Linked DNA regions of Homo sapiens: all the other regions are linked to region 1. The links come from fine-mapping of genetic effects on gene expression. A gene starts in region 1. Each other region holds a variant in brackets. All regions are shown on one strand. Distances are from middle to middle. Region 1 holds the start of RNF175 (ring finger protein 175). Region 2 has its middle 33 kb from the start of SFRP2. Region 3 has its middle 28 kb from the start of TLR2.

Region 1 (8,187 bases):
GAGTCCTAGCTAACATTATTTAAATGAACTGGCTGTTACACGAACCTTAAACCACATGTCATTTGGTTGTGGGGCTGCCATGGGCCAAGAGACATTAATACTGATGGTTCCCAGCTCACAAATGAACTGTGTTCGTGTGTTTGGAAGGCTGTGGTTTGAAAGGCAGAATGCACTTTCCCATAGAAGCAATTTTATAAATGGCAATTAGGGCTACAAGCCAGCTCACAAAAAGCCATGTAACCATAATATAGCTAAACACCATACATTTTAGCCCAACAGAGTGGAAATCAATAGTGTTACAATACTAATAATTAAAGGATGAGATAAAAAAGTACTAGTGCTTAGGCAAAAACAGATTTAATTAAAGGAAGATGAAAATGTCTATCCAGTTAGGCAGAGGGACCAAGGAAAACTGGGACTGTTAAGTCAGGAACCCCGACAGTTGGGAATCAGACCAACTTGCAGGATTTCTGTCAATTCTAAGGAACTAGTGTCTGCATGTGAAGACCAACCTAGCACCCAGAAAGGAGTTTGGGGAGGGGGTGGAATGGAGGGTTAGGACGACTGAAAAGAAGTTAGCCTAGTCATTCCTATGCAGCTATTTCATCAGCCAAGATGGGACCTGGCTTCAGCGTTCCTCCCCTCTTGGGTGATTATTCCTATTTATAACAAAGCCAACCCTGGCCCCAAGAACCACTGGAGTCCAGAAAGTTTGGTGTCTTTTTCATACTGATTTCTGAGATCAGACAAGCTCTTGGATATTCACACAGCCTGGATGGATTTTTACCTCCCTGCCCTGCCCTCATGTAGATGAACCTGCTCTTGCTATCCCCTTCACAGAGGAGAAGTTCTGCCAGTTGCATGGAGTCTCCCTCTGCCATCCTATTCCACATGTGACCAGCACTGCACCTGGCTGGAGACATTCTGAATCATTTATTCTAGCTTAATGCTAGGGATCAAATACACATTTTATCTGGGAATATGAAAAAGACATGAGATATCTGTATATGGTATATGAAATATGAAAAGATGAGAAATGAGGAAAGGAGTAAATTGAAAATGGAAGTTACTTGAAAAAGATCATTTGTAAAGCAATACAATGGCATTCTGCAAGATCTAACCATTAGGTGGCACCACTGGCCCAAGGAAGTTTGGTGGCCCCAAGAAAGTGGAGGAGAAATGGGGAAAATTGCTGAGTGGTCTAGGGTAGGAAGGCTGGAGGGAGCCACTGCGGAACAAGTAACTGAACATATACAAGCATTCCTGTGAAGTGTGTACTCTGAATTAATCCACATATTAATAAATTCAATCATTAATTCCCTTAAAATTATTTTTAAAGTCTCATAATTTTATTTATACAAATTGATTTATATCCCTTGCCCATTTCTATTGATCTACGCTTTTTAAAAATTAATCTCTAGCAGTTCTACTTATTCTGAGTACTAGTCCTTTGTCAATGAGTTATATACAAATATATTCTGGTTCATGGCTTGCCTCTTTTTTAACCGCAAGTTTCTGTTGTACAGAAATTTTTCATTTTAATACAGGCAAACTTTTTTCTTTGCCATTTGTTCTTTGTGAGTCTTGTTTAATATATCTTTTCTTATCTTGAGACCATAAAAACATTCTTTTAGATAAACTATTGCTTTCTAACCACCAGTTTTGTGCTGGTATGGTATAATTTTTTTTTCTTATGGATAAACCAGTTACTAAATAATCTATTTTTTTCTGCTGATTTGCTACTCCTCTCATGAAACTAGTTTTCCATAAATGTATGTGCCCATTCTGTTCCTTGAGTCTGTTGATTCCTGCACCAAATATGACAATCAACTGACTAGTGATTCTTGACCCCACCTTGTTTCTCAAACACATTTACCACATTAGCTAATTTCTTCCATTACATCATTACAACCACCTCAGGACTCTACATTGCGGGACATGAAGAAGGATGCACAGACTACAGATAAAATGCTGAAGAGATTAGTGTTAAGCAGCAGAATACAGTTCATCTATTCCAGGACAGAAGACAGAGTCAGCCGCCAACCATTTGATTTGGAAAACAAAATTTCAAATTAATTAACCTTGTTTCAGTGAACTACTCCAGAGAGCATTGCCTAACTGACTGGGAAATTAAATATTCATTCTGAATATCTGCAATTTGATCATAGAAGAAACCAGGTATAAGAGGAGGATAGATTAGAGCAAAGCCATCGTTACTGATGGGGAAGAAATGCACTTTTTGAGTTTTATTCTGATATGATTGCTGAGCTGAAGCCAGAAGGAAGATGATACCTTTGTGCATACATGGGTCTCCAGTGAAGTATGTGGGTCTTTTTGGTGCCAATCAATCAGGAGAGAGAGTTTCAAATCTGGGACCTGAGACTTATATAACAATAACAGGTCAGAATTTTATAGAAAGGGAACATCTATCTCCATATGGACTATTTTCATTTTATTATTTTGCTGCCTTGGGAGAATCTAGATGAATGTGAGGATATCCTGGGCTGGAGAGAAAAAATGGCTCTTGCCACATGAAGGCAGGCCACAAGATAGGTAGAGAAGTAACATGTCCAAATGAACCCACTATTTTTGTGTCCCCAAATCTGCTGCTCTTTCAATGTTCCCATTCTCAGCAATGGCAGCACTGTCTGCCCAAATGCTAGACTGCCCAAGCCACATGCCTGGGCACCATCCTTGGAGATGAGTCAAGTACAGTAGATTCTATTACCTAGATCTCCCATCCCCAAACACATCTCTCCATCTCCCCTCCACTCTGTCCCCGCACACACTCTCACCACCAAGGCCACTGTCATCCTTAGAGCTGAAACTACAGCAATAGCTTTCTGGCTGGTCTCTCTGTCTTGAGTCATAGTCATAGCCCTCTTCCCCACTCTTGAAGCCAAAAGGCAAGTCTGGTAATGTCATTTTCTTGCTTAAAACTCGGTAATGGCTTCTCATTCTCCTGAGGCTACAGTCCAAACTGTTTAATATGATTTATGTGGATCTGGCCCTTGCTGACCTTCGCAGCTACTTCCTTGAGAGATTAAGAACCCAGACCATGAAGTCAGTTTTGTCTGGGTTCAAATTCCCACTGCCCCACCTATTAGCTTCAAAACTTGAACAAACTTCTGGACCTCTCTGTGCTTCAGTGTTCTCCCGTGTAAAACACGGACGGTCACAATGCCCACCTCACAGGATTGTCAGGAAGACTGAATGAGCTAACACAGGTAGAGTGCTCAGGACGGCACCTGGCACACGGTAAGCATTCTATCAATGTTAACCATGATTTTTATTTCTCCAATTCATTATGCCTTCTCCAGCATTCCGGCCCTTGCATCCACTGTTCTCTCCATCTCAGACACTCTTTCCAACACACTCTGATCATGCTACAAGGTAGTCTTCAGATGTAGGTAACAGCCCCAGCGGCACCTGAAAACTTGTTCAAAAGACAAATGCTCAGGCTCCACCCTAGACCTACTATATTAAAAACTCTAGGGCTCAACTCCAGCAATCTGAAGATTTTTGTTTTGTTTTTTGATAGAGTCTCGCTCTGTTGTCCAGGCAGAAGTGCAGTGGTTCCATCACGGCTTACTGCAGCCTGAACCTCCCGGGCTCCGGCGATCCTCCAGCCTCAACCTCCTGAGTAGCTGGGGCTACAGGTGTACCACGCCCAGCTCACTTTTGTATATTTTATAGAGATGGGGCTTCACCATGTTGCCTAGGCTGGTCTCAAACTCCTAGGTTCAAGCAATCCGCCCGCCCTGTCCTCCCAAAGTGCTGGGATTAAAGGCATCAGCCACTGTGCTTGGCCAGCACTCTGAGTTTTAACAAACTCAGCATTCCTCCATAGGATTCTGATGCCCAGTTAAGGCTGGAAAACCAAGGCACCATCCGTGATAAATTGTACTTAGATGCTTATTTTTCTCTATCCCCTGTTAGGCTCTACGTTCCACAATGGCAGAGAAATGTCCATCTTGGTCTGTTCACCTCCTTTGTAGGTGTTGACAAATACGAGCCATCACAAACTGGAAAGGGGTAAGCTGTATTTCGTAGGACACATCATCTAATTCTGTGCTCCTCTTTTCTGTTTCCCCAAATCAACACCCAGGTATTTCTAAAGGCTTGCCTAAACGTTCCAGCTTGTTCTCAACCTTGAAGCCAGGCTTAGGCCTAAGTTGTAAAGGCGGGAGGGGAGACCCTGGAGGTAGAGGGGCAAAGGCAAGATGCTTGCGTCGCAGGGGCCCTGCATGGCCTGGAGCAGCATAGGGGCCAAGATGGTCTGCGCTCTCCCTAGATTGGAGTTTCTCTCCTTCATCATCTTTGGAGGAAGCACAGATAACTGAGGAAAGTCTGTATCTGCACAGCCACCCGAACTCCTGCCTCCTAATAAACACCTCTGAGGGAGAGGAAACTCTCTCTCTCTCTTCTCTTCCTCCCCAGCACCCCTCGCCCCCCCACCGCCATTTCTCACTCCTCTACTCCCCTCTCTCTCCCTACCCACCTCTGACCCCTCCTCCAGTCCTGCCGCCCGGTAACAAAACCGGGGTTCCCGCCACACGCACCCGGTAGGGCTCAAGACGCTTTATCGGCGACAATGGCTGGCTGAATGGGAGGCCTGAGGTTCTGAAGGAACCGGGGTGCTGGCGACCGGGACCTCGAGGCCGCTGCTGGGGAGGACGCTGGCCAGCGTGCAGGGGGCGGAGGCGGGGCGTGCCGGGAGGCTCCCATCTCCCGCCCCGCACAACCCGGGCAGGGCCGCCGCTCCGCCGCCGCCGCAGATCCGGCTCTCACCCTCGGCTCCCGAGGCCCCGCGGCGCCTCCTTCTGCGGACTCTGCGGGACCCTCCCCGGCAGGCGCTGTGCCCTGGAGAAGGCACAGTGGCTCAGGCATGGCCGCGGGGACGGCGGCGCGGAAGGCAGCGCCGGTGCTGGAGGCCCCCCCGCAGCAGGAGCAGGTACTGGCGCGGGGGCGCGGGCGTGGGGGACGCCAGGCCGGGGTCCCGGGGCTCACGCTGGTGCCGGGCAGGCTGCACAGACTGGTCTCCAAGACCCCGGGCCCCACCGGGGAGAACCGGCCCTGGAAAGACGTGGGGACGGACGCATGACCTTCTGGAAGATGCCACCGTGCGGGGTGCCAGTCCCTCCTCCACTCCCTCCCTCCCCACTTCTGTGCCCTCCCCGCTACCTTCCTTTCCTCCTTCTGATCCTCTTCCTTCGCTCCATCCCTCTTCTCGCATCCTCGCACTTTCTCTTCCAGGCTCACCCCTTCCACTCCCGCCCTCCTTTGTGACCGCCTGTGCCCTCCTCCCTCCTCGGCGGAAGCCCCCAGAGCCCAGGGTCAAGGTCGTAAGCTGCGAGAGAGGGGAAGGGGTGTACTGCAGGCTTTTGGCTAGACCGCCCTGGTTCTCAAACTCGAGTGTCATCAGAATCACTCGGAGGGCCTGTTACCACGCAGACTGCTGGTCTGTGCCCAGGGTTTCTGATTCAAGATGTGTACCCTGATCGTCAGCTTGTCTTGCCTGGTGCTCAACCTAGCCCATTTCTGCTTCTGCTGGCGTCAATTGCAAACCCAATCTTAATTTATTCTTCGTTCATAGGACAATTCTTCTTAGGCTACATCCAGGTACCAGGAGGATTTGGGGGTGGAGGAGGGTAGGTCTTACCTGGAGGAACCCAAATCCCATCCGTAAAACGAGGACAAAAATAACTCTTAAGGGCAAAGATAACTCTTAAACAACAACAAAAATCACTCACAGAGCGGGTAGGAAGAGATTAATGTCCCAAAATAGGTTCAGGCAAAGAACTGTAGGATTTCTGAGAAGGGCTTGCTCCTGACTAACCCCCTTCTCCTCCAACCCGTGAGGGCGTGGCATTCGAGCTGGGTGTTGGGGAATGGACAGGATCTGACCTCATGGGCCAGAGAATTCTAGATGGAGGGAACAACAGTACCAAATGGCTTGGAGATTTTTTTTTTTTTAATATTGGGATGGATGGCCATGGGACAAGGCAGAGAGAGGGGACTGTCCACTCTGACTGCCAGAAACCTAGGGGTCAGGAATGCTTATAGCAAAAAATAAGGGTGGGCTAGGCTGTGGAGGGGCTTGTGTACCACAAAATGGGGAAACTTAAAATGAAACTCCATGACTTTCTTGCTGGTTTCAAACCCAGATTATCGAAAGGGAGGTTCTGAATTGATGAATGCATGCCAGGAGTGTCAGAGGATCTAGTACTGGTGGATTTGCTGCTGATCTTTGCTCTTCCTTAAGGCTGGCATCACTGCCTAGTCTGCTGCCCTCAGGAGGTATGGCCTCTCTGTTGAGGCTGCCCTAGGAGGGACTCACAGCTTTTCCCTTAATCCCATATGGCAAGACAGTGTGGTCCAGGAACCAGCAGCCAAGGCATTACCTGGGAGCCTGTTAAAAATGCAGTCTCAGTTCCCACGCCAGACCCACTGAATTGAAATCCGCATTTTAACCAGATCCCAGGGTGATTCATTTGCACATCAAAGTTCAAGAAGTGCTGGTTTCTTGACTTTACTAGAGCTAGGGATAAGAAAGTGAAAACAGAGATAGTTACTGACCAGCCTATTATCTGATAGCTTCCCTTTGGTTTGAACCTCACCCTATTTTATTTTCCTTCATCACCCTTATCACTACCTGAAGTATGTCTATGTGTGTATTTGATTGTCTAAGAACCTCCTTCAGCATGAAAGCTCCAGCAGAAAAGCCATGTGGTCTGCCTTGCTCGCTCCTGTATTTCCAGGACCTAGAACAGTCTCAGCAAACGGCAGGGCCTCAATAAATATTTATTGAATGAATAAATGAACAGTAACGTACAATCTTATGATGTAAGACCCTAACTCCAGCATACCTTACTGGACAAACACCATCTCCCTATTCCCCATCCTCCACCTCCCCAGCTACAACCCCTGGGGTCTTTTGAGCCTGCAACTGGTTAGGTATGTTTGAAACTCCTAAAATTTGGAGTGTGAGAGCAGAGACCATGGGTTTAGGAGTTCCCTCTTCTGCTTGTCTAAGGCTTGCTTTCCAGGCTCGGATTTCTCCTGAGAGCTGAGAGGACCCACCACTTCCCCAAAACTGCTCTCTGCCTGGGGGCAGGCCATACACAGCCCCTCCTCTCCACCCACAGGCATGCAGCCTTGCCTTGTGACATGAATTCCTTACCAATGAATACAGCCCTCTAAACCTAACATTCCTACCTGGCACTCACATGTGGTCCAGGGTCATCACTAGTTTCTGAGTTCATTGTTCTGGCTTTGCTACTTGGTTTAGAAAGATTTTTCTAACAGGTGGGTTTTGTGAGGGAAGAGTTGAAAGTGACAAAATCAGTTTGGAGGCAGCAGTTCAGGTGAGAGATAATGAAAGCCAATCGGGGTGGCAGTCTCCAAACACATTGAGTGTGCCATGCACCAGACATGAGGATTCAGTGGGGGGATGAGGCCAGCGCTGGCCACCTACAGATTCAGGTAAGTAAATAAGTCATCAACAATGCAGTCTGGTAACAATGTTCAAGGTCAGTATATATCCTGGTAGGGGCCTCACCGAAAGGGTGTCCTGGAGTAAGTGGGATCCAAGGGTGAGCAGAAATGAGGCAACCCAGCATGGAGGCTGGGAGTGGAGGGAGAGCATTCAGGGACAGGAAAGCTCTGCTTGGCTGGAGCAGAGGGTGTGCAGGGGCAGTGGAGAGAGGGGAGGCTGAAATGGGATACAAGGCCTTGTGAGCCATGTTGGATTTCAGGCAGGAAGACAATAGGATCAGTCTACCTTTAATGGGAACACTCTTACTGTTTGAAGAGGGAAGAGAGCGAAGGCAAGGGCCTCAGAGGAGGGGGACACCCTGCATGCTGGCCTCCATCTCATCTTCCCCTAGCCACCCTATCTAAAGAGTGACAGCCCTTGCCCTCTGCTGGTAATTCTTTATCACACATTTTATTTTCTTCATATAATTTACTTCATTAGGCAGTTGTTTTGTTTGCTTGTTTATTGTGCATCATTTCCTCTAGAACACAAGGTCCTATTCATGAGAACAGACACCTTGTTTGTCTTTCTAACCCTTGAATGCCAGCTCTTAACCCAGTGGCTGGCACATGGGAGGCACCACTCCATATTTGCTGAATGAATGACAAAATGAATGGCATAGAAGCCATAGGGGTGGAGAGAAGGGGGCA
Region 2 (8,187 bases), 61 kb before region 1:
TGTACACATCTTTTTATCTTTACAGATGATATGTCAGCCGCTGCAGAACTTTTATAAAGTCTTAAGAGTTCATCTATTATTTCTAAAATAAGGTAGGAACAAATCTCCCTGGGAAAAGTGCTACATACATTGGGGCATACATTCGTTTTGCTAGACTCCCATGCTGAACTAATTGCACTTCCGAAACTTTCTTGCCTGAGCCATGTTTCAAGAAGGCTCTCAGCTACATAGAACACAAACTACCTTCCATACACATCAAAATCAGAAGAAGTGCCAGATTTCTCCCAGAGCGTCTTGTTTCTCCCCTGCCATTCATGAGAAACCTATTCCAACATGTTGCATTACAGGGAAATTGGAGATGAGACAGTCACAAAAGTAGAGAGATGTTTAGCCTAAGAACAGTTATACGTGTTCCAGAATGAAGCAAAAAAAAGGTCAAACTTAAGTCAAGGAAATGGCTCAGCTTTCTCTAAAACAGAGACAGAGAACTTCTTCTCAGCTGAAAACATAACAAGAACGGGAGAGGAAAGAAACCTGAGATACAGCTTGATAACCTTTCTTGTCTTGGCCAAATATTCATTTGGATTGTCAAAATTCATAGAGAATCAAACTGTGCATGAAGACTAAAGGTGAAGTATAATCTATATATAAATAAAAAGAACTGTAATCATGGCTTAGGAGTAGAGGACCCAAAAAAAATGCATTGCCCATGTACTTTGAAGTTTTAGGATGCTGTGGAAGTCACAAATTCAATAAAGGCCAACTAGAGAGGTCAGACCTGCTCCAGATGTTCCAAATCAGCCTCTCCAGTCAAACCCTGACCATCTAGAAGGAATTAATGATTAGCTATCATGTGAATCCTATTAAAGAATATCTATATTTCTTTTTTAGACACAAAATTCTCTAGAGGATGGTGCTTGCCAAGACTCTGAAAAAATAATCTCTCAAAATTCTTGCAATCCACTGTGTTATGATTTCATCTCATGAAATACAACACCTTTACATTAAAACTCATAAAACTAAATCCCACTGGATCTCTTCCAGACTCAGATTAAGCAGCTCTGTTGGTGATGCTTAGAGAAGGGAAATACAGCCTCATCTCCTCAAACTGGTTCCCACCACTGGGTCCATTTTGCAGGGAGCAAATTTGCTTTACATCTACAAAATATTTACATGTGAGTAATTTCATACATAATAGATCTTGCAAATGCCTTGTGAATGAAAGAATATCTTCCAACATCACAGTGATAATTCCCCTGAAAGGAATCTTTTAAACTGAAATACACACAATTTCATCCTGGTTTTCCAGTCTATGGAAGTTATCTCTGGTTCTCCTGGATTCGCCTGTGGGTGGTCAAAAGTATGAATATAAGGGCCAGAAAGGACAAAATAAAATGCTCTTCTCACTAAAGAGAAATTCACTTGAGTTTACATTATATTCTTGACTCAAGAAGAAAGAACGCCTTGCTAAATAAAGTGACAATATCTACATGTAACATAAACACACACTGACAAAAAGCAAATCTGCACATGCTCCTATCAGTAGCTATACATTTTCCCAATACTTGGTAATTTTTGGCAACAAGGTCATCCTGTGATAAAGATCTCACCAAGAAATAAATCAATGATCAGTAACGCAAAGATTGATACCTCATACATTCATATTATTGTTATTATTAGAAACACTTTCCTTCGTTTACATTTGTCTTCAGTCTTTCCATTTATATCAAAAATGAAACAAACATCATTAAGGAATTGTCTTTGTCAGCCTCATCAAGAATGTTTTACAGGAATTCCACATGTCATCTGAAATGTCTCTGATGCCATCCTTTTTATGTAATACATGAAATGACAGAATATAGACTCTTTTGGTGTCACCACAGGATAGATTTCCATTCACCTCAGCAAATATTACATGAAATAGAGGTAAGTTTCTTGGTCTGGGAAGGCTTTTCTCTAGCTAGGCATTCATATGATAGAATGGAGGTCCTATTTCATTCAACAAGTAACTGTTGAATGCCTTCGTTGAACTGGCATGGTGAAATAAAGCATATTACCAGGTAGTAATAATTGTCCACTTCATAAGAATCCAATCCCATTTCTAATGCATCTTCTAAAGGTCATTAGTATACATTTGACATCCCCTTTTCACCTTTTCTACATTCATGTATTTTCAAGATTCAACCCACCATTCCTGAATTAAAACTCTAAGGTGATTAGCCAGTGGCATTTGGCTGCGGCCTGGGAATTCCAATGTTCCACAAAGGAGCTTCTGCTGGTCTCCTATAGCATTGAAGTTCACAAGGTGCTCACGTCTCTAGTCAATTTCAGGAATATATTTATAATTTACCCATAAGGCACTCATACATGCAAATCCATCCTTTCCACTATTTCCACATTAGTGGGAGTGACATTGTTATCCCCATGTTTCTAGTAGTAAGAAATGACCAGATTAAGGGGTCTGTATTAATCTGTGTCCCATCAAATGATCCTATGTGCCACAAAAGCTTAAGAACCATGGACCTAGGCCTCCCTTATCTTATTCAGGTTGTCAATCATTTATATTATAAATTCATAGAGAGAAAGTATTTTAGTCTTCAAAGCATGAAAATTTTTCTCTCATTGGTTGTTAGCATCAGCTGGACCTATAAGACATCTTACATCAACCGTTTCTGGCTGGCCCCTGGAATACAAATGAAGATAGTGTTTGTGTTACTACAGGGCCAGTGAGGGGGTGTGAGCCCTTATTATCAATTCCAGTGAGCTCTTCTCATATGTAAAAATGCCTTTGCTCTAAACCAATACACAAAAAATACAAAAGAATCACATATTCTCTCATTCACTTCATGTGCCATAAAACATTTACTGATCTCTGCAAGTCTGGCTGTATGGACAACAAATAACCCAGGGCCCACATTTGTAATACAGTGATCATAGAGTATCAGACTTTAAGATGTTTAACCTCTCTGATCTTCCTCAGTTTTTTTCATCTATATGATAGAAATAATACCTTTTTAGTAGGAGTTTTTAAATTATTAAATGAAAATAATACCTATGAAAACACCTTAAACTAATACTAGTTTTTGCTGCTGCTGCCATTATTAAGCCCAAACTGAACCTCCCAAGGCCATTCTTGCCCAAGATCATTTATTCATTCTACAAATATGTCCCAAGCACCTATTAAGTGCCAAGCACTGCATGATTCAGTGATTACTAAAAGCTTTATAGAGCTTATTATGGTCTGTCTAGTGAAGGGGAAATACATTGATTTAATAATCACACTCCAAAAAAATGGAAAGTTGTTACTGTAACAAGTACTGTGAAAGAACGATACGTAATGTTACGAGAATTTATCATAGAGGATTTTGACCAGAGGGGGCCATTATGGTTCATTTATTCAACAACATTAATTGGGCACATTAATTGCCACACACTGTGAAGGTGCCAGGGATTCAAAGATGAAGGCATGATGCCAATCTCCAATAGATTAGCAATGCAGAGAAGAACCAGGAATTCTAGCATCTACTCTCATTCCCTCACTACTACAACCCCTGTCTTCCTCTACACCCACTGCATCTCCGCTCCACCATCAGCATCATTCTCAGTGATTTGGCTAAGTCGCTTGGCCTTCTTGGGGCCTCAGGTACCTCACCTGTAAAACAGCAGAAATGTCTTCCCAGCCTAGGACTGGATCCTGGATCAACTGACCTCTTGGGATTCTTTCCCCTGTAAAGCCAGTGATACGGCAGACGGACTGCCACTTTGGCTGAGGAGTTAGCCTTCTGGTCAGAAAGATTTTTCTCCTAACATCATGGAGAAGAAAAATAAGTCAAGCAAGCAGTATTCCCCATGGGAGGTTCCAATATCCATCCTCCCACAAAGTCAAAGCAACCACAAAAGATAAACTTCCGCCAGGCGTGGCGGCTCACCCCTGTAATCCCAGCACTTTGGGAGGCTGAGGTGGGCGGATCACCTGAGGTCAGGAGTTCAAGACCAGTGTGGCCAACATGGCGAAACCCCGTCTCTACTAAAACTACAAAAATTAGCTGGGTGTGGTAGCTCATGCCTGTAATCCCAGCTACTTGGGAGGCTGAGGCAGGAGAATCACTTGAACGCAGGAGGCAGAGGTTGCAGTGAGCCGAGATGGTGCCACTGCACTCCAGCCTGGGCAACGACAAAAAAAGCAAGACTCCGTCTCAAAAAAAAAAAAAAAAAAA[AG/G]ATAGCCTTCCACTCTGAGGTCAATATGAATTTCAGTGTGGGCCAATACTAATGTTAACCAACACTGGGATTCATCAATTTTTTTTTTTTTTTTTTTTTAGTTCCAGGGTACTTGTGCAGGATGTGCAGGTTTGTTGCACAGGTAAACATGTGCCATGGTGGTTTACTGCACCTATCAACCCATCAGCTAACTATTAAGGCCAGCATGCATTAGCTATTTTTCCTGATGCTCTCCCTCCCCCAACCCCACAACAGGCCCCACTGTGTGTTGTTCCCCTCCCTATGTGTTCTCATTGTTCAGCTCCCACTTACAAGTGAGAACATGTGGCGTTTGGTTTTCTGTTCCTGCATTAGTTTGCTGAAGATAAAGGCTTCCAGCTCCAACCATGTCCCTGCAAAAAACTTGATCTCATTCGTTTTTATGGCTGCATAGTATTCTGTGGTGTATATGTACCACATTTTCTTTATCCAGTCTATCATTGATGGGCATTTGGGTTGATTTCATGTCTTGCTATTGCGAATATTGCTGCAATGAACATATGCATGCATGTATCTCTGTAATAGAATGATTTATATTCTTTTGGGTACATAGTAATGGGATTGCTGGGTCAAATGGTATTTCTGGTTCTTGGTCTTTGAGGAATCGTCACACTGTCTTCCACAATGATTGAACTAATTTACATTCCCACCAACAGTGTAAAAGTTTTCCTATTTCTCCACAGCCTTGCCAACATCTGTTGTTTCTTGACTTTTTAACTGGCATGAGATGGTGTCTTGTTGTTGTGATTTGCATTTCTCTAATTATCCGTGATGTTGAGCTTTTTTTCATATGTTTTTTGGCCACGTAAATGTCTTCTTTCAAAAAGTGTCTATTCATGTCTTTTGCCCACTTTTTACTGGAGTTGTTTGGTTTTTTTGTGTGTAAATTTGTTTAAGTTCCTTGTAGATTCTGGATATTAGACCTTTGTCAGATGGATAGATTGCAAAAATTTTCTCCTATTTACTCAAGTCTTGGAGGAAAAAAAAATAGGGTTTTTCTTTGATATTTTATTATCAGATGGTCTGTTCACTCTGATGATAGTTTATTTTGCTGTGCAGAAGCTCTTTAGTTTAATTAGGTCCCATTTCTCAATTTTTGCTTTTGGTGTTTTCGTCATGAAATCTTTGCCCATGCCTATGTCCTGAATGGTGTTGCCTAGATTTTCTTCTAGGGTTTCTGTGGTTTCAGGTTTTACATTTAAGTCTTTAATCCATCTTGAGTTAATTTTTATATAAGGTGTAAGGAAAGAGTCCGGTTTCAATTTTCTGCATATGGCTAGCCAGTTCTCCCAACACCATTTATTAAATAGGGAATCCTTTCCCCATTGCTTGTTTTTGTCAGGTTTTTGAAGATCAGATTGTTGTACAAGTGTGGTCTTATTTCTGAGTTCTCTATTCTGTTCTATTGGTCTTTGTGTCTGTTTTTGTACCAGTACCATGCTGTTTTGGTTACTGTAGCCTTGGAGTATAGTTTGAAGTCAGGTAGTGTGGTGCCTCCAGCTTTGTTCTTTTTGCTTAAGATTGTCTTGGCTATATGGGCTCTTTTTTGGTTCCATGTTAATTTTAAAGTAGTTTTTTCTAATTCTGTGAAAAATGTCAATGGTAGTTTAATGGGAATAGCATTGAATCTATAAATTACTTTGGGCAGTATGGCCATTTTGATTCTTCCTATCCAGGAGCATGGAATATTTTTCCGTTTTTTTGTTTCCTCTCAGATTTCCTTAAGCAGTGGCTTGTGGTTCTCCTTGAAAAGGTCATTTACTTCCCTTGATAGCTGTATTCCTAGGTATTTTATTCTCTCTGTAGCAATTGTGAATGGGAGTTCATTCATGATTTGGCTCTCTGCTTGTCTGTTGCTGGTATATAGGAATGCTTGTGATTTTTGAACATTGATTTTGTATCCTCAGACTTTCCTGAATTTGCTTATCAGCTTAAGAAGGCTTTGGCCTGAGATGATGGGGTTTTCTTGATATAGGATCATGCCATCTGCAAACAGAGGCAGGTTGACTTCCCCTCTTCCTATTTGAATAGCTTTTATTTCTTTCTCTTGCCTGACTGTCCTGGCCAGAACTTCCAATACTATGTTGAATAGGAGTGATGAGAGAGGGCATCCTTGTTTTGTGCTGGTTTTCAAGGGGAATATTTCCAGCTTTTGCCCATTCTGTATGATATTGGCTGTGGGCTTGTCATAAATGCCTATTATTTTGAGGTATGTTCTTTCAATACCTAGTTTATTGAGAGTTTTTAATATGAAGGGATGGTGAATTTTATCGAAGGCCTTTTCTGAATCTATTGAGATAATCATGTGGTTTTTGTCTTTAGTTCTATTTATGTGATGAATTGCATGTATTGTTTTGTGTATGTTGAACCAGCCTTGCATCCCATTGATGAAGCCAACTTGATCGTGGTGGATAAGCTTTTTGATGTTCTGCTGGATTCGGTTTGCCAGTATTTTATTGAGAATTTTTGCATTGATGTTTATTAAGGATATTGACCTACAAGTTTTCTTTTTTTGTTGTATCTCTGCCAGCTTTTGGTATCAGGATGATGCTGGCCTCATAAAATGAGTTATGGAGAAATCCCTCCTTTTCAATTGTTTGGAACAGTTTCAGAAGAAATGGTACCAGCTCCTCTTTGTACCTCTGGTAGAATTCAGCTGTAAATCTGTCTGGCCCCAGGCTTTTTTTGGTTGGTAGACTATTTATTACTGCCTCAATTTCAGAACTTGTTATTGATCTATTCAGGGATTCAGCTTCTTCCTGATTTAGTCTTGGGAGGGTGTATGTGCCCAGGAATTTGTCCATTTCTTCTATATTTTCTAGTTTATTTGCATAAAGATGTTTATAGTATTCTCTGATGGCTGTTTGTATTTCTGTGGGCTAAGTGGTGATATACCCTTAACCATTTTTTATTTTGTCTATCTGGTTCTTCTCTCTTTTCTTCTCTATTAGTCTAGCTAGTGGTCTATTTTATTAATTTTTTCAAAAAAAGCTCCTGGATTCATTGATTTTTTAAGGGTTTTTCATATCTCTATCTCCTTCAGTTCTGCTCTGATCTTGATGTTTTTTTTTTTGTCTTCTGCTAGCTTTGGGGTTTGTTTGCTCTTGGTTCTCTAGTTCTTTTAGTTGTGATGTTATGGTGTTGATTTGAGATCTTTCTAACTTTTTGATGTGGGTACTCGGTGCTATAAATTTCCCTCAACACTGCTTTAACTGCATCCCAAAGATTCTGGTACATTGTCTCTTTGTCCTCACTGGTTTCAAAGAACTTCTTGATTTCTACCTTAATTTCATTATTTACCCAGAAGTCGTTCAGGAGCAGGTTGTTCAATTTCCATGTAGGTGTGTGGTTTTGAGTGAGTTTCTTAATCTTGTGTTCCAATTTGATTGCACTGTGGTCTGCTTCCAAGATGGTATGTTGTTGCTGCATGCTCCAGAGGGAGTAAATGCCATGTCCTCACGTGGAGGAAGGGATAGAAGGTAATGAACCCACTCCCTTAAGCCCATTTGTAAGAGCCTTAATTCCTTCCATGAAGGCTCTACCCTCATAACTTAATTATCTCTTAAAGCTTACAAAGATATAATCTGATTTATTGCATTACTACCACATTGGCAATTAAGTCTCAACATATGAATTTTGGGAGAATACATTCAGACCATTGCAAAGAGCAAAAATATTTTGAGCTCTTGAAATGCACAAGCAAGGAATTAGTCACCATGAGAGATACCAGGATAAAACACACACACACTCCCAGGAGTTTACATCCTAATCCTGACCCTTGGCTGTAAGCAGGTTTTTTTCCTGCATTCTTGCTGCCTGCTGAGGATGGTAACACAAAATGACAGCAGGCTGTTTATTTCTTTCAAAGCCACATCAGTGGAAGAGGGACATCCTGTGTCTATAACAGGTAGATGGAATTCCTTGTTGAAA
Region 3 (8,187 bases), 100 kb after region 1:
CACTGCCTTCAAACCACCAGAATCTGTTGAGATTAGTGATGGCCTCACCAAGTAACTAGAGAATAGCAGGAATAGTACCTCATCAACCTTGAGTATGCAAGGTTGGGTACAATGGGGTCTTAGTCTACCTTAAGTTTTCATTTGGTCAAACTGTTCAGATTGGCTTTTAGAAGCTTAGGATGATGTAACTTTTGTTTGTTGTGATAAATAACATTCCAAAGTGATTTTTAAACATTTCTGATAACATGAAACATAACAAAGGCAGTATGTATAGAGGTTATGAATAGAGATTCTGAGCCATCTTGCTAACTGCATGATTTTGAGCAAGTTATTATCTCTGTAAAATGGACTTCATAGGGTTGAAAATTTGGTGAGATGGCACATGTAAATTACCAGCAGTACCTGATGTTTGTTTGTTTGTTTGTTTGTTTGTTTGTTTTGCCATTAAGGGCCTTTTATTCATATTCATCACATCGGAGATCATCTCTTCCTAGGAAGCTTTTAAAAAATCCCCAGGTTGGATTAGGGCACTTCCTCTGGGTCCCTGGCAATTTCCTCCAGGTTAGGGATCCCAAGGGGTCTCTGCCTTCCTGGGTCTCTGGCCTGGCCCTTGGGGCACACAGTCATCAAGAAGTGCTGGGGGGAAGTGAGCTCTTTATTTAGACATAGCTCTGCTGAGTGGAAAGTGGGCACCAGCCGCATTAATGCTTGCTGGCTAGTGGCTTCCAAGCATGCCCCACTGCCAAGGCTCAGCTCTGCAGTCTGCCACTGCAGGTCTCTAGCACAGCTCCCAGGGTCCTTAAAAGTCATCATCATCACAGATGTCAAAGTACACATCGAAAGCCTCTCTGTTGCAGCTTCCATCAGGAGTGAAGACATATTTGTGGAAGGTCCCATCTACACAGATGGCAATGACAGAGTTGAATTTCTTGGAAGTATTGCGACCGAAGGAGCAGATGCAAGCTGACTCAGCAGGCACAGTGAACCTCGCCAGGCTCCACTGAGAGTCCACGTACTGCCCAATCATAGGCCCCACCTTGTCCACGGAGCCAGCGCGGAGCAGCGGTTAAGGTGGGTATCCTTGAGAGCAAAGATATGGATGGTGCCCTTATCGCTGGAAGCGCAGAGGAAGGAGGAGTCGTGGCTGAAGTTAATGCAGTAGAGGGTGGCAGGGTCAGTGCCTCGGTGCAGCTCCACCAGTTTCTCCTTGAATTGTGTGTCAAAGAGGCGAATAAGGGTACCATTCTGGGAGGCTGAGGCCACTACAGTGCCTGGCTGGTTTAGAGACACACAGGTTATGTCACTCTGATGTGCATTGATGGTGAATGGAGCAGACATGGTGCCAGGCTTTGTGCTCGCCAGGTCCACAAGTTGCAGACTCCCACACTTGTGTCCCGGGAACACTAACAGTTGCTTGTCCAGGCTGGGGCAGAGGTCACAGAGCCTGTTGGGGTTGACCCGGGTATCAAACTCAAACAGCTTTCGAGGATTGTCTGGGAAGGAGTACACATAGATGCGGTTCTTCAGCACGGTCACGATCTTGCCATGGAGCATGCACAGAGAAAGCACTGGCTTGGTGAAGATGAACTCCAGCACCAGCCTCTCCTTGGAGTCCTTGCCCTCCCGGGCATCGTCCCAGATCAGCACTGAGATCTCTGAGAACTTGGGGCTACTACCACCGCCCACCAAGGCCAGAAGGTTGCAGCGGTGCAGCATCTCCACCAAGCCTATGCTGCCACCTGCTTGTGGTCCAGATGCCCCTTCTCCATCAAGGGCTCCACGTTGTAGATGCGCACACCTGTCTCCATGGCGCAGCAAAAGCAGTTTTGGTCTTGGTTGAAACGCAGGCTGGTCACTCCTCAAAGTGGCTGTTGAGTCAAGGTCCAGGATTGTTCCCCCTGGGATCGTGCTCCAGCTTCCTGCCGCCTTCACCAGCCTGACCTCCGCGTGTCCCCGACCCAGGCCCCAGCTGTCGGTGCCGCCTGCCCGTACCTAATGCTTGTAAGTGCTAGATATGAGTTCCTTGGTAAGTAGAGCCAAATGAATAAGTATATTTGTTTTATAAAAAATGAATTCTGGTGATAGGGTCTGGGGAAAGAGCAGCAAGGTGGCAAGAAGAGACCAAGAAACAAGCCAAAGAGATGGAGGAGGAAGACAGGATTCCAAGCAGAAGCAAAAAGAGGAGCAGAAGAAACTTGAGGGGCTAAAAGCAAAGGACACAGGGAAGGGACTCCTGGCCACAAGTGGAATTAAGAAATCTGGCAAAAAGTATTATCGTAAGCAAATTAGTGCATAGACTGAAAACCAAATACCATGTGTTCTCACTTATAAGTGGGAGCTAAACTTTGTGCTCATGGCCATAAAGATGGCAATGATAGAAACTGGGGATATTAGAGCAGGGAGGAAGGAGGTTAAGGGTTGAAAAACGAAATATTGAGTAGTATGTTCAGTACCTGAGTGATGAGATTATTTGTAACACAAACCTCAACACCACACAATATATCCAGGTAACAAACCTGCTCATGTGCCCCCTGAATCTATAATAAGAGTTGAAAATAAATAAATAAGAAACCTGAGGAAAAAAAAAAGCTGTTCCTTGTGACTGAGGCAATGATGACCCTTGATTCCATTGCTATTTAAACCTCTGCATTTCCTGCCATAACATCTTTTGCCACCTATAGTTAGAATGAACTGTTGTCTTACAGCCTGCTGTACATGTAAGAGTAAACTTTTGTTTAAAAAAAATCAAAAAAGAAGAATCGAGTGGAGAAACAAAGCTGCCTGTCTATACAACAGATATGCAAAAACATTAGGCATATGAATACTAATTATAATGATAGGTTGACAAAAGTACATAATTATGGGGTGAATGACATGAAAGAGGAGTTATACGTCAGTTGACTGAGGAACTTTTAGACACTGCAGAGTTACTAAGGAAACTACAGAGTTTCAAAGCTGTATTGGCAAAGAATAAAAATTATAAGAGAAAAACAATATGAAAATTTTCCTCCACCTTTTATTTTTTTAATTTTCTTTCTTTTTTTTTTTTTTTTGAGACAGAGTCTTGCTCTTTCACCCAGGCTGGAGTGCAGTGGTGCAATCTTGGCTCACTGCAACCTCCACCTCCCAGGTTCAGGCGAGTCTCCTCCCTCCCAAGTAGCTGAGATTACAGGTGTGCACAACCATCACAACCATGCCAGGCTAATTTTTGTACTTTTTTTTTTTTTTTTTTTTTT[A/TTA]GTAAAGACGGAGTTTCACCATGTTGGCCAGCTGGTCTTGAACTCCTGACCTTAAGTGATCTGCCTGCCTTGGCCTCCCAAAGTGCTGGGATTACAGGCATGAGCCACCATACCTAGCTGACCTTTTGTTTAAAAGCATTTGTTTCTAAGATCATAATTCAATTGACAGGAAAATACCAGGTAATGATTGCCTCTAAGAAAATCAGTCCCTAAACTTGTCCCATCTCTAGCTCACTGAGGGCATAATCCCCAGTGTAGACCCAATATGAGATCACTGACCTTCCCTTCATTTTACTCTTGAAAAGAAAGACAGAAGTTATGAAGAAATAGTCATTCCCTGAGGGACACGCAGAGGAATAACTAGCCCAAAACTCTTTAGGGGAATTCTATGTGGAAAGTGTTTACTTGGATTAATAAGCGCCTTTGGTAAAAAGGCAATTATATGAAGTAATGTAAATATATTGGGCTGTCAGTCATTCACACTTTAATATGAATTAGATCAATCATAATGTTTTCCTCTAACCAACTAGATGAGCTCAGTGTCTCTCAGGAAATGAGACTATCGATGGCAAAAAGGGAGCAGAGGGCATTACGTAGCAGAGGTTCAGGTGGGACAGCGCAGGAGGAAGTATTTGGAAAGAAGTTGGGGATACATTTAGAAGCAGAGACCTAGAGAACAGGAAAGGGGAGGAGGGGACAGAGAAAGGGGAGAGAGGAATGCATTAATGAAAACTTTATTTCTAGGAGTGTTTTGCCTCTTTGTCAAAGGAGGGGTCGAGGCCCAATCTGCAATCTCAATAATAAATTATCACTTTTCTATCAGAGAAGAGGAGACAGGGAAAAGAAAAGGACATTCCTCTCTTTTCCAAGAATGAGGGACCGCTCTGCTGAGAAAGTTTGCTTTGGCATTGAAAGAAACACTGGAAGGTTGTTGTTCTGTTTTAAACCTCAGAAACTTGCGTAACTGGGCCAACACCAGCTGTGCCAGGAACTGGTACAGGGTAGGTCTGTCTTGCCCAGACCGTCCAGGGAATAACTACATTAAAATTCTGCTCTTGCATAATATGTTTCACAGAAATTTTAATCATAGGAAATGAAACTGACTGCTGCAAAGGACCTGAATTTCCTGTGGACACTGCCCCTGGCTAGTACATGGCCATCCCCTCCAGACTCAGAGAGGAAGGGGTGGCAGAGGGAGGATGGGAAGAAAGCAGTAACCAGCAAGCGCCTACTGGGGACCAGGCATGTGATTTCGGACAATCAATGTTTATTGTCATCAGCATGCCCTTTGGTCAGGCATGATGCTAGTTGCTGGGGTTAATGGCAAGAAAGTCCTGGTCTTTGACCTGAAGAAGCTCACAGTCTAGTGGGGAAGAAAGAAGTTGAACAAGTAATTCCAAGGGGGCAACATGAGCAGCACTGCAGGCATGAGGCAGAAGTCTCTTAGCATCCCCAGGAAATAACTCATCCTTGTTTAGCAGATGGGCCACCCAAGGCTCAGAGAGATCATTGAAGCAAGTAAGAGTGTCGTCAGGGAGTGAACATCAGACATCTCCTTCCCAAGCCTGTGTTCCTTCTACCAGCTAAGTGAAGGGCCTGCCATGTGCATGTTGCCAGGGTAAGGGAAACTGTGGCCTCCCCCTTACTAGTTGGGTAGTCTTGAGTATGTCATTCAGTGTTTCTGGGTCTGGGTTTCTTGGGAATGTTACCTTTTTAGGGGGTTGTTCAAAAGACGAGATTAGATGGCAGAGGTGAAAAGTGGTGTGACTGAAGTTGTCTGTCTGACTAAAGCTGAAGTAGTCCAAAGTCCAAACTCTGAAGCCTGGAGTCTGAAATCCAGGGTCAGGAGTCTGAAGTCTGAAGTCAGAAGTCTGGTCTGGAGTCTGAAATATGAAATCTGGTCTGGAGTCTGAAGTCTAAAATCTGAAATCTGGGTCTGGAGTCTGAAGTCTGGTCTGGAGTCTGAAGTCTGGAGTGAATCTGAAGTTCGAAGTCTGATCTGGAGTCTAAAAGTCTCCTGTTGTCTGGAGTGTGGAGTCTCTTGTCTGGATTGTGGAGTCTCTTGTCTGGAGTGTGGAGTCTGTTGTCTGGAGTGTGGAGTCTGTAGTCTGTCGTGTGGAATGTGGAGACTGGAGTGTGTTGTCTAGAGTCTGTTGTCTGAAGTGTGCGATCTGGAGTCTGGAGTCTGAAGCTGGAGTCTGAAAGTCTGTTGTGTGGCATGTGGAGTCTGTTGTCTAAAGTCTGGAGTCTGAAGTCTGGAGTCTGAGGTCTGAAGTAGTCTGACTAAAACTGAAATAGTCTTTAAACTAAAAACTATCTTTCTCGTGCTCATTGGTACTATTGTTATGCAGTTGAACACAGTGTTGGTAGAAAAGGAGAAGCAGAAAGAATGTAGATTAAACTTTGATTCCCATCTTGCCTTTCCTTCTGCTGGAGCCACTTCAGATGTTTTCTTTTTTTTTTTAATATATATATATATATATATATATATAATACTTTAAGTTGATTTCTTAATCTAAGTAGAGAGCAGCTTTAACTTGCTTTGAAAAAGCATTTTATTCTGCACAGCAAAGGAAAAAAATTAACAAAATGAAAAGAACCTATAGAGGTGGGTAAGGGGGAGGCGGGGGGATGGGTATGGTTAATGGGTACCCAAAAAATAGTTAGAAAGAATGAATAAGACCGACTATTTGATAGTACAGCAGGGTGACTATAGTCGATAATTTAATTGTACATTTTAAAATAACTAAGAGTTTAATTGTATCATAAGACAAAAGATAAATGCTTGAGGGGATTTTCTGTGACACAATTTGCCTGTATCAAAACATCTCACACACCTCATAAATATATACACCTACTATGTACCCACAAAAATTAAAACAAGATTTTAAACTTTATAGTAAAATAAAGAAAAAAAGAACCTATAGAATGGGAGAAAATTTGTAAACCTTATATATAATAAAGGGTTACTATCCAAAATACATAAAAAATTCAATTCAATAGCAAAAAAACAAATAACTGGATTTAAAGTGGGAAAATAATCTGAATAGATATTTTCCCAAAGAAGACATAAAAATGGCCAACAGGCATATAAAAATGTGCTCTACATCACTAATCATCAGGGAAATGCAAATCAAAACCACAATAAAACATCACCTCATACCTGTTAGGATGGCTAGTACCAAAAAGCCAAAAGATAAGTGTTGGCAAGGATGTGGAGAAAGGGAACTGTTATACATTATTGGCGGGAATGTAAATTGGTATAGCCATCATAGAAAACAATATGGAGTTTCCTCAAAATATTAAAACCAGAACCACCATATGATCCAGCAATCCCTCTTCTAGGCATATACCCAGGGAAAATGAAATCAATATGTCAAAGAGCTGTCTACACTCCTATGTTTATTGCAGCATTATTCACAATAGCCAAAATTTGGAATCAACGTAAGTGTCCATCAATGAATGAATGGATAAAGAAATGTGGTGTATACTACACAATGAAATAGTATTCAGCCTTAAAAAAATAAGGAAATCTTGCCATTTGCAACAACATGGATGAACCAGCAGGACATTATGCTAAGTAAAATAAGCCAGTCACAGAAAGACAAATACTGTATAATCTCACTTACATGTGGAATCTAAAAAAAGCCAGACTCATAAAAACAGAGTAGAACAGTGGTCACTAGGAATGGTGGAAATGGGGACATTGGTCAAAGGGTACAAACTTTCAGTTATAAGATAAATAAGTTCTGAAGCTCTAATGTACAGCATGGTGAGTGTATAGTAATAATATATTGCATACTTGATATACTCGAAATACTTGGTATTTGCTAAGAGTAGATCTTAAGTGTTCTCACACAATGTAACGTGAGATAATGGACATGTTTATTAGCTTGATTGTGGTAATCATTTCACAATGTATACATATATCAAAACAAGTTGTACACTTTAAATATATTAAAATTTTTGTCAGTCATACCTCAATAAGCTAAAAAATTTTTTAAAGCATTTTAATGATTGAAGAAAAATGATTGAAGAGGTAACTTGCAATAAGAGTTACTGAAGTGCTGAATGCTTCTGTACTTCAGAAGCATCACAGAAATGCAGATCATGCTGTATATGCATATATTTTATATGACTGAGTCTGCTTTCTATCTAAACATTACTCTGTTTCTATCTAAACACTACTCTGCCTAGTACTTTTTGTGTGCGCAATATCATCCTGAGCTTTGGATATTCCCAGTTTTCCAGACTTTTCTGGGCTCTGGAAAGGCACAGTCATAGCTATATTTAACTGCCCTATTATTCCTTTGGAAACACGGGCATATAAAAATAAATAAATAAAATAAGAGAGAGTCCCAGGGTCACAGAATGTGTAGCAGGAGAGATTCCAAAAGGAGGGCTGGTCTGTAGGGTAGGATCGCATGGAGAAGTGAAGAATAAGGACTTTCCAGATACCTTGATGTGAGGTGCCAGATCCCACAGGGGCTTAGAGTCACTGACTTCCTGTTTCAAGCACCCAGGAAATTGCAAAGTGACCAAGGCAAGGAAATACCCAAAGATCAGCTTCCAATTTTTGCTGGTGCAGCCTTTTCTGTCACACCACACATTGCTGTGCGTTGTTCATTGTCCAGTCATTCATCCGCTGAATTTCCATGAAGTCACTTCCATGGGCCAGATACTGTGCTAAGCAATTGCAGGGGGCGGGGAGGCGGGGGGGTAGGTATAATTCAGGAGGGGACACGAGGTGCTCGTATCAGTAATTATGCCAAAAGCAGGATGCCCAGAGGGAATGATGACTAAGGGAACTCTGAGTCCTTCCTGAGTCCCTAGGTCTCACTTCAGTGACTGAGAATGGACAAGGGCCTGCCTAGGTCTCTCCTAGCCCCTGACTACACCTGTATGTTAGGTCGGCTTGTCCCACAGGAATGACTTGAGCGAAGCAGAACAG

The links. PIP is the estimated chance that this variant, and not a neighbour inherited with it, causes the effect.
Region 2: its variant is fine-mapped to the expression of RNF175 in whole blood (INTERVAL, PIP above 0.99).
Region 3: its variant is fine-mapped to the expression of RNF175 in whole blood (INTERVAL, PIP above 0.99).

What each region holds. Positions count from the first base shown.
Region 1 is chr4:153,756,564-153,764,750 of GRCh38, reverse strand. RNF175 (ring finger protein 175) reads left to right here and starts at 4,727. Exons shown (of 9, transcript NM_173662.4): 1 at 4,727-4,954. The coding sequence starts at 4,889.
Region 2 is chr4:153,817,509-153,825,695 of GRCh38, reverse strand. No RefSeq gene overlaps it. Among named protein-coding and RNA genes, the nearest start is that of SFRP2, 33 kb to the right of the region's middle. RefSeq lists an enhancer at 2,636-2,805. The variant AG/G (reference allele first, on the strand shown) is at 4,218.
Region 3 is chr4:153,652,265-153,660,451 of GRCh38, reverse strand. It overlaps the pseudogene LOC100419170 and the pseudogene WDR45P1. Among named protein-coding and RNA genes, the nearest start is that of TLR2, 28 kb to the left of the region's middle. The variant A/TTA (reference allele first, on the strand shown) is at 3,237.